Linked DNA regions of Homo sapiens. The protein of the gene in region 2 purifies or fractionates together with the protein of the main gene of each other region. This does not show direct contact. Each region holds a gene or a part of one and is shown on either strand. Other genes may lie near its edges.

The links.
Region 1: the proteins of CREM (region 2) and NT5E purify together in Homo sapiens (affinity purification with mass spectrometry, with the first as the bait; one study listed by BioGRID). This does not show direct contact.
Region 3: the proteins of CREM (region 2) and NAMPT purify together in Homo sapiens (affinity purification with mass spectrometry, with the first as the bait; one study listed by BioGRID). This does not show direct contact.

Annotation. Positions count from the first base shown.
Region 1 is NC_000006.12:85,452,993-85,456,647, reverse strand, and holds part of NT5E (5'-nucleotidase isoform 1 preproprotein), read right to left. Parts: intron 1-3,655. UniProt on the Homo sapiens protein: Catalyzes the hydrolysis of nucleotide monophosphates, releasing inorganic phosphate and the corresponding nucleoside, with AMP being the preferred substrate. Shows a preference for ribonucleotide monophosphates over their equivalent deoxyribose forms.
Region 2 is NC_000010.11:35,210,075-35,213,533, reverse strand, and holds the end of CREM (cAMP-responsive element modulator), read right to left. Parts: exon of another isoform or gene 2,281-3,459; coding exon 2,136-2,280; 3' UTR 1,879-2,135; coding exon of another isoform or gene 1,731-1,878; 3' UTR 581-1,730; downstream 1-580.
Region 3 is NC_000007.14:106,274,834-106,278,488, forward strand, and holds part of NAMPT (nicotinamide phosphoribosyltransferase precursor), read right to left. Parts: intron 2,347-3,655; coding exon 2,190-2,346; intron 217-2,189; coding exon 113-216; intron 1-112.

The DNA.
Region 1 (3,655 bases), on a different chromosome or scaffold from region 2:
CTCCCACCCTTTTCTGCTCATCTTCCAAAACCGTGATTTCCCTATGTAGCTGGGAGGGTTTTTCCTCACATCAACCAATTCCCCAATTCTGTGTGGACACCAACTTGGTGTCCAACAATTCAGATGCATTCTGACATTCTCTACCTGGACTTAGCATCAGATCCCACAAGTGAGAAGGCTCAAATGCACAAGACTGCCCCCACTTCAGACACCAGTCGAGAGTCCTGGGCCACCTGTATTCCCAACCAACTAGTTATAAATTGGAGGTTCCCATGACCCTATCCTTGGGATTGATAATTGGCTAGAACGAGTCACAGAACTTGGAAAGCACTTTACTGGCTTATTATAAAGCATACGACTAGGGAACAAGCAAGTGAAGAGATGCACAGGGCAAGGCATGGGAGTGGATGGGCAAAGCTTCCATGCCCACTCCATGTGCACCACCTTCCCAGCACCTCAATATGTTCACCAACTTGGAAGCTCTCTGAATCTGGTTGTTTAGGGGTCTTCATGAAGGTTTATCGTGAAGGCATGATTGATTAATTCACTGGCTGTTGGAGACCGAACTCAATCTGTAGCCCATCTACCCTCTAGAAGTGGGAGAGGTAGGGCTGAAAGTTCTAACCCTCTAGTCATAAATTAGTCTTTCTGGCGACCAGCCCCCTTCCCGAAGCTATCTAAGGGCCCCCAGCCATAGATCATCTCATTAGCATACAAAAGCACAAACACACACATACACACAAACTGCTTTTTCTACTGTCACACTGAACACAGAATACTTCTGTGACCAGATGTGTGTGGGATTTCCCCCAGACACCAAACAGTACTCCAGAAAACACAAACTGAGTGTCCTATAATTGAATTCAATTCTGATACTATCTCAAGACATTGTCAGATCCCATAGGTTAAGGGCTCAATCCTACAAGACTGCCCTGACTTCAGGCTGATCACAAGCCTGAGGTTGTGCTTCTGGCTGAATGGCTATAAATCAGGGGTTTCCATTACTTCCTCCTTGGCTTCAATTAACTTGCTAGGACAGCTTACAGAACTCACTCATTGGTTTATTATAAAGGCTATACAAAGGATATAGATGAACAGCCAAGTGAAGAATGGATAGGCCAAGATATGGGGGCAATGCGGAGCTTTCATGCCCTACCTGGGTGTGCACCCTCCAGGAACCTCCAAATGCTCAGCAACTAAAAAGCTCCTCACATCTTGTTCAAGAGTTTTTGTAGAGCTGAATCTCCAGTCCCACCCTCCTTTCCTGGACTTTGGTGGGTGGTACCGAAAGTTCCAACTCTTTGATCCCCTAATCTCTTGGACTTGCTGGTGACTGGTTCCATCTTGAAGCTATCTAGGGATCTCACCCTAAGTCTGCAGGAGCATAAACCCAGGTATTATCATGGGGTTTATTATGAATCACAAAGGACATTTCTATTACTTAGGAAATTTCTAGGGTTTTAGGAACTCTGTGACAGGTACTGGGGACAAGGACCAAATATTTATTTTTTATTATACCACAGTGGTCTTCTACGCAGAAACCACATGGCTGCCCATGGCAACATAACTCAAACTTCTCAGGTGGCCTTTAGAGTTTACACAACCTCTTCTGCCATGATTCCTGCTACCTCACTCTGGTCCAACCTGGTCCATTGTGTAGATTCCTGCCTCTACACCTTTGCCCCATCCTCCTGTCCCTTCACTGAATCAAAACATTTCACTGTAGGGCTCCAGTTGTTCAAATATGTATGGGACCTCAGAGGTAAGCTGGTTCAAACTTCTATTTTATAGATGAGGAACTGGTGATGCTGAGAAGTGAATTGCATAGCCACAGATTGTAGATTTATCTCTTAAAAGGCAGAGAGAACCGTGGTGATCTCTGAATTTCCAGTGAGGAGTGTTAAAGGTGATAAGCTTTAAATTAGCAAACTATTAGGCAAACTTTCAAAAGCACAAGCCACAAGGAAAAAAAGATTAATTCAATTACAAGAAATGAAGAATTTCTGTTCAATGAAAGATACCATGGACAAAATTAATAGACCTAATATCATCATAATATATTTGCAATGTCTAAAATTGATCACAGATCAAAACCTATAACTCCTGAAAGTCAAAAAATATAAAGCTAACCCAATTTAAAAAATACCAAAGAATATGAATAAGCAATTAGAGAAGAGGAAGCTTAAAAAGTTAACAAACATATCAAAAAATGTCCAAACTCACTAGTTATTAGAAAAGTACATGATAAAGCAGCAATGTGTATTTTACACCTACAATAAAGCTGGATACTGCCATGATATATAGGTAAAATATAGAAATTTACATGTCCTGTTTGGGGATGGGAGTAGGTGGAAGAGAATGGAGGATGTCAGTCATTGAGGAAACCAGTCTTGTAGTACTCAAAGTATGCCCTGTGGCCAGCAATTCTGCTCCTGGGTAGAAATCATCTGGTGAGACCATCCAGGAAGATATCTGGAGCAGCATTATTTGTGGAGGCAGGGTGTTAGACGCCATCTCCAAACCCATCAGCCAGGGAGCAGATGGGTAAAATACGTGGAGATGGGTAAAATACACAGAGCACAATTCACAGTGATGTATAGGTATAAGGGCATCTAGGGCAACATGGACAAATCATAAAAACAATAAGTTCAGGACAAAAGTAAGAAACAGAAAGGGCTAAATAACAGGACTGGGTATGCCATTATAAAATATAAGCACACAAAGGTTTTGAAAGTGCATGTAGAAACAAAACTATATGCAGTCCATCAAACACATTAGAATGTTGTCTATGTGGGAGGTGGAGGGTGGCGAACAAAGGACCATCTATCTGACTAACCTGTCCCCTGGGTGAGTTAAAGGCGGGGGCCATGGTTCCCACCCTGGCTGCTGCCTCCCCCATTTAGGAGCAATTGGCTAGGGCTAAGGCTGCAGCCTTATGGGCAGGAAGTGGGCTCAGCAGCCAGGGCCTCAGAAGCAGCAGCCAAGCAGAGAAAAGGCACCTTTCTAGGGGACCCTAGAGACCTGCTCAAAGCTACCTTCCCCACAGCCTGTCTTGGTGAGAATCTCACCTCTGGAGGTGGATACCTTCAGTTTTGTGCTGTGGGGAGATTTCATAAGTCTGCTCAATGAGTAACTATAGCAAAAATAGTTTAGGCAATGGTACTTAGGTAAGATGGTAGAGGGCAGGCAGGTGGTAGACTGTGCCAGGCTGTGAGAATCAGATAATCTGATGCACAACCCAAACCTTCCCTTCCTCACAATTCCCCTCCTCCCCACCCAGGGCACATGAAACTCACTTTCAGTGAGCACCAGCAGGGATTATCTCATGTATTCCTCACAAAACCTCTGCAAGATGGGGGTTATCACTCCTGTTTTACAGCTAAGGAACATGAAGCTCAGAGAAAGTAACCAGGCCAAGCGCATACTGTCAGTGCTTCCATGCTGTCTTCCTCGTGCCTCAGGGGACAACAGTCCTTCCACTGAGACAGCTACACTAACTGGAGAGTTTTGCCATCCTCTTCCCAGTTTTCTGCCTAGTAGTGGTTCCAGGGGGTCTCCAGGATTGCCCTGGGTCCTCTACAGCAATCAGGATTACTCCAGTAGGTCTAGAAAGTGTACACCTCCTTGGAAGTTCCTGCTCGAGGGGACTCCTGTG
Region 2 (3,459 bases):
ACTTTGGGAGGCCAAGGCAGGTGGATTACTTGAGGCCAGGAGTTCGAGCCTAGCCTGGCCAACATGGTGAAACCTCATCTCTACTAAAAATAGAAAAATCAGCTGGGTGTAGTGGTGTACGCCTGTAATCTCAGCTACTCGGGAGGCTGAGGCAGAAGAATTGTTTGAACCCGGGAGGCGGAGGTTGTGGTGAGTTGAGATCACGCCACTGCACTCCAGCCTGAGTGACAAACCAAGACTCTGTCTTAAAAGAAAAAAAGAAAAAAGAAATTCAGAGCTCCGACTCTGAAGGAAGAATAAATATTTTTAAAGAAAGCCAACAATGACATGCCCTACTTACTGGGAGTGACAGATAAGGGAAAGAATTCCAGTGGTACAGGGAAAGCAGCAGCTGGATGCTCCGCAAACCAGCTCCCAATTTTCTGTCTCCCACCACACACTGATCAGATCCACTCTTGAAACTGGGGGGTGGGGCAGGGACATCCTTAAAGCAGAAGTCACAGCAGGAAACACAGCAGAGTCCACCACGCGGCAGACAATCAAGAAACGTCAGGGAATGAGGGGACACAGCATCCTGTGGTGAGGGCTTTGGGCTTGTTCCCTGAAGCTTTTTATTATAAAAACAAGATGAAACATAGATCACATTGCAGTCTCGATTGTAATGAACCTCAGCTGAATGTGCCGACAGCGGAGTATCTGATCTAATGTGGACTTTGAAGCATTTTGAAATGAAAAAATCTTGGGATGTTTTTGTTTTTAAAATTCCTGTGGTTGTTCGCTAAATGGCAAAATAGGGGGCCACCAGCCGGACAGCTCCAGACCACCTACAGAAAGAAAGTCTCAGGCCATTATGAAGGCCGAAACGCTAACAGCCATCTTCTTCTGGGTGCACAGCCCTGCGGCCATCCCCACCGTGAGATGGTAGAAAGGGCGCGTGCAAGGATCAGCACCCAGTGTAGAAACTGACTTGTACCCCGAAGGTATGCAATGCGATCCCAACAGGCTCATTCCAGATATAAAAAATATGTCATCACTTTCATTAGGTAATATTAAACCAACACTAAGAACTTCTGCAAGATCTTTTATATTACACAGTAGAGTTAAAAACTGTAGTAAATGTTCAGATATTTAAATGAGCACCAAACACTACAAAGTGCAACCAACATGGTTCTATTAAAAACTCTCTTTGACTATGGCATTCAAGGACAGCAATACAATCTTTTTTTTTTTAACAAAGCAACTAATATAAAAATCTGCAAATGCCATATATTCATATCTAGGCTATTCTTCTCATATAGGCATGTCATTAGATAGACTTTCTTTCTATTCTTTCCTGAGGTATTTTTTTGTGGTTTACTTTTATTGTACTGCTGGATGCATTATTTTTGATCATCCTTTCCTAAAATGATTTAAAGACCTGCAAATAATTTTATTGCATAGGACACTATTGATGACACATAGAATGGGAGCTGCAAGTATGTGGCATTGGAACAAGCCTTACAAATATTGCATTTTAAGAATACACACATTTTTTACAGTTTGTCTCTTTTAAAAAATTTGAAGTTATAGCTACGACTTAACTACGTACAGTGAAGCATTTTAGGAATGTTAAGTGATTAAAGAAGAAGATGAATGATACAAAGAAAAGAAGCCACCATTCTTGCCAGCTATATATTGTATTCCTTCAAAAGCAACTATACATGCTGCCTTCAGTTCATAGTTAAATATTTCTAGTAATCTGTTTTGGGAGAACAAATGTCTTTCAAGGTTTCAAGTTCCTCTATAAGCTTCTTGTTCTGGACTTCCAGCACTGCAACTCGGCTCTCCAGACATTTTACATATTCTTTCTTTCGACGTCGACATTCTTTGGCAGCTTCCCTGAAAAAAAGCAGAAGCAAAGGGCAAACAAAGCATTTTTTGCATGCTATTGACAAACAGATCAAAGTAAGCTCGGTAAGTGTGATCACGGCTGCATTCCACATCCTGGAACAACATTCCCAATTCAATTTCAAACACTAATCCAAACTGGATTCTTAAGGGTCACACGTGTCCTTCCCACAAGTCCACATGGCAATAAGTAGGACTGCTGCATCTCCTGCCTTGATTAGAGTAAACAAGGTCCAAGTCAAAGACAGTTACTCTACTTTATGGCAATAAAGATCTTTGAGGGCCTTGAGTTCCTCAATGAGAGTCTTGTTTTGGTTTTCAAGCACAGCCACACGATTTTCAAGACATTTGACATATTCTTTCTTCTTCCTGCGACACTCCCGGGCAGCTTCCCTGGAAGCAACACAAGGCAAATGACTACAGGAACAGCCTTCCAACACAATCCACAGTGGGTCAGTGCACTTCTGCCCCCCGAACTCAACAGCCAATCGATCCTAGGTAAGGACTGTACAAAGCCACATAACAAACATAACCAGGCACATGCTTTTTGTAAGATAACCATTAGACAACAGGAATGATTTGAGAACACAGTTCGCCCAGCATTCATCACAAATGGTGTTTTCTTAGGGCACACATTCCACTGGTAACAATGCCCACAACTGTTTTCAGTAAACTACAATAGGACCACATCCCCAAGTGGAATTTCTACAAACACATTTATAGATCCTTTCAATTCTCTTAATTATTTTTGTCTCCCAAAAGGCACATACTCCGACATAATGAGTTAATTTTATTCGATCAAAAATGATTATAAGAATTAATCCTCAAAAACCTTAAATATCAACACTGGAGATTTTTAGTCTTCAAAACTAAATCTCAGTAAAACAAGATCAATCATGACTGCAAGACACAGTTTATTGGCTAGAAAACACACATGGATAAATCATAACAATAAACAAAAGATGTGCATTTTTATAAACCGAAATGAAATGGACAGTGCTTCTGAAAATTAAAGAAGGGGGCTACAAAATACAACACTCAATAACTCAGACAATTTAAACCCACAAATGTGAGACCACCACAATTAAAATTATAAAAAAGAAGCTACTGAGTAACTCTGGGCATATTTCAAGACTGTTTCCTAATCACATGCATTTAATATCCAATATATTGAATTTTAAAGCACTATAAGCCCAAAATGAAAGAACAGACCAGTAGCCAAAGCAACAACACAAACAGATGAGTTGACTTAGTCATTTTCATACATAACCCCACCAAAACAATAAATAGAGCCAACATTTTCTCTTTTTCTTTTTTTCAGGGTGGGAGGGATGGCAACCACTTCCCTTAACTCCTATGTAGAAGACACCCTTTAATTGGCCTCATTTTGGAGGATTCAATTCCAGAATAACTGCCTTTGAGGTAGATCACCCTTCATGTCAAAAAAGCCTGCACTGAAACAGACACTATCATTCAAATATGTTAAAAAAAGCAGTGTTGAATGTCTAAACACCAGTTTCTGTAATGCCAGCTAGCATCCTGAACCACATGTGATGTATACATGATTTTTTT
Region 3 (3,655 bases), on a different chromosome or scaffold from region 2:
GACAGAGTGACACTTTCTCTCAAAAAACACAAAACAAAAACAAATTCCTTTGCAAGAAGTTTTGAACTGAAAGAAAAACCAAAACAGATCAAAAGATGAAACCATCTTTTACCTCAAGAATGTAGTTCCATCCCTTTTCATTAAAGACATCATCTTGGAAATGTTCTTTGTAGACATCTTTGGCTTCCTGGATTTTCTCTTTGGTTACTACTTTACCTAGAAGAATATACATGTCCTGTTTACATTTCTAAAGGTGCATTCTGTGAGTTGCTGAACTGTCACAGACTTAATATCTTTGGCTATTTCACCCATTCTATGGATTAAAAATATAACTAAGAGGTTAAATGCTCACCCAGAGTCAACAGCAGAGTCAGAAAAGGAATTTGTACTTTTAATAACTCAAAGTATAAATGTTTATTTATTGTAAAAGCAGATGTGTAATAGAAAAAATTATTACTTGCACAGCTTTTAAAAATGATATTAACTTAATTTTTTTCTCTCGATTAATTTTGGTACTTTTCAACTTTGAGATGACTCAAAAGCTTCTTACATCCAAATGAAACGTCTCACTTCGTTCGTAAAGAATGTGGCATCTTTAGGGTTGGTAAGTCAGTAATTTCCACAATTACTAAATGTCTGCCCCCCAAACAACACACTTTTAATTAACTTTTCTTATCCGTAAATGAGGATAAAAGTCGAGTACCCACTTATATGATGTTTGTGAGGACAAAATGAGTTAAGACATACGAACCACTTACAATAATGCTGGCCTAGAATAGGTAATCAATACATTTTAGTTATAATTAAAAATGAGTAATATTTTACAAAGTTCTTAAGTTGTATGACTAAATTAAAGTGTGCTATCAGTTGCTGGTAACTTAATACAAGATAACTAGTAAACTCGTTTAAAGTATCTTGGGGCCAGGCGTGGTGGCTCATGTCTGTAATCCCAGCATTTTGGGAGGCCAAGGCGGGCGGGTCGCTTGAGAGCTCAAAAGTTTGAGACCAGCCTGGTCAACATGGTGAGACCCTGTCACTATAAAAAAGTAGCCAGGCATGGTGGTGCGAGCCTGTGGTCCCAGTTACTTGAGAGGCTGAGCAGGAAGGATCTCTGGAGCCTGGGAGGCAGAGGTTGCAGTGAGCCAAGATTGCACCACTGCACTCCAGCCTGGGTGACTGAGTGAGACCCTGTCTAAAAACAAAACAAAACAAAAAAACTTTGGTATTAACTTTGGTATTCTTGCCACTAATAATTACTTCTGATATCTAGCTAGGTTTTCAGTAGTATAAGACTATCTGAACTGCCTAATCTTAAAAGAGTCAAGATTATAGAAAAGAGTTATTGGCCTAAAATTCACCTTACTGTTTTCAATTCTGAAATTGTTTAATTCAAAAGGTTAGAGATAAACTTTTCCAACATGTATAATGTGTTTGGGAACTGTTTTCCCCCTAGAAATGGCCTTTCAAATAAGAAAGCACAGAAATTGGGGGATTTTTGTTTTAATATGCATTTGCAACTAAGTCCAGAGACACAGGTAGTTTTTAAAAATAGGTCTTCAAGGTAAAACTGGCTAATATAAAAATATTCTGATTGCTACCATAATTCAAAAGGAGTTTCCAGTTCATTAACAACTCCTTTACTTTGAATTAATGACTAAAGTATAACAAACAAGATTAGCCTCCAAAAATTAATGACTTTTCTAAACTTATTTCAAAACTTTTAGTTCGGCCAGGAGTGGTGGCTCACGCCTGTAATCACAGCACTTTGGTGGGCCGAGACAGGTGGATCACCTGAGGTCGAGAGTTCAAGACCAGCCTGACCAACATGGAGAAAGCCCGTCTTCACTAAAAACACAAAATTAGTTGGGTGTGGTGGTGCATGCCTGTAATCCCATCTACTCGGGAGGCAGAGGCAGGAGAATTGCCTGAAACCAGGAGGCGGAGGTTGCGCTGAGTTGAGATCATGCCATTGCACTCCAGCCTGGCCAACAAGAGCGAAACTCGGTTTCCAAAAAAAAAAAAAAACCTTTTATTTCAGAAAACTTTTCTCATACTTAGAACATCAAACACACACCAAATTATATGATTTAATGCATCCAAATTAACAGATTTGTTAAAAATTCTAAAAGAACTCCTAAAGGAGTTAAGAGTAATAAGCAGTGTTTAAAATATACTAGGAAAAGTAATACCTTTTAAGTACTTATTAAGAATGTACTGCAACCCATAAAATACTGTTTCCTCATATTTCACCTTCCTTAATTTGGAGTTTTCTGTCTTCTTTTCACGGCATTCAAAGTAGGAATAAACTTTGCTTGTGTTGGGTGGATATTGTTTATAGTGAGTAACCTATGTAAAGAAATACACTTCTGTTAGAAAACACCGATGAGTAGACTATAAATCACAACAGAAAAGGCTTGAAGTTATTTCAAAACCAGAGAAACTATATTTCTTGTTTGCTATTAACCAGTTTCTTTTCCTGGCTATACCAAATAAAAAATAAGTATCTAAGATATTTTCAGAGTTCAGTATCTTAAAACCACAGGAGAGCGTTAAATTTTACATACAAGCACACTAAATCTACTACAAGGCCTCTAGGTTGGAAAAGTATTTCATTTGGTTTTGGGGAACAGTCCTTCATCCAGGCGAAGAGAGAGAGAAGCAGCTGCCTAATGGGCACACACAACAGAAAGGAATGAACTGAAAGACAGCAGAATTTGGTACTGCTAATATCTCAATGTGGTATGTTCCAAAAGTCAATGACTTAACATGACTACTTTACTTGTACAATGAGGTACTGAGGATGATCACTTTTAGCCTTCACAGTGACACTATGAAAACCTGGATGACAGCAACGGCGGTGGCAGCAAAGTAAAGCAGCAAAGTAAAAAAAAATCCTGTTTTGTAATCTCCCTTTGTCAAATCACCCACCTAACTGGAAAATAAATTCTTAAACATCAAATCCTTATGAGTTTAAAATACGAAGAGGTCTTCCTTAGCACAAATTTCTTTTCCATGAACTTGGGTAAGAGCCACCATGTAAAAAATTTATCTGCTTTTAAGAAAGAAAAAGTAAAAAGTGAGTGTTCATTATACTTTTAATATGGTTAAAACATGGAAATAAATTCAAACATTTTACCAATAAAAAATAAAGTGGAAGAATAATGTGTATCTGCCCAATTTCAAGAGTAGGAATAACAGTGCCTTGAGGTTTAAGATACAGGGTGAATCATGGCAATGGCGGAATAAATCTTTGCAGACCATTTTTCATGAGTGATCACTGTGAACATAAATCATTTTTCCTGTTTAGCTTTGATCTCAAGTTCAGGAAAGCCAATGCTGTCTTTGGGTACACAGTCTCAATCTCAGTAAAACTTGGCTCTATCCTCAAGAATCTTCATAGCTTAGTACAAGAATCCTAAGATGAATATATTTCCATTGATGATTCTGAATGAATGTGCTGTTTCCTTGCCAATGGTAGCATACTTGCAACTCTATAAAAATAGCCCCTAATGCAGCACACAGACAACCTTGGAGGTAAATCTTTATAGTAACAAGTGATCTGAGAGTTTAAGTCAAGCAGGAGACTTGGAGCTGTTTTCCTTAAGTACAACAGATAGTGATATACTAAAAGGTACAGGGAAGACTCATCAAAAGC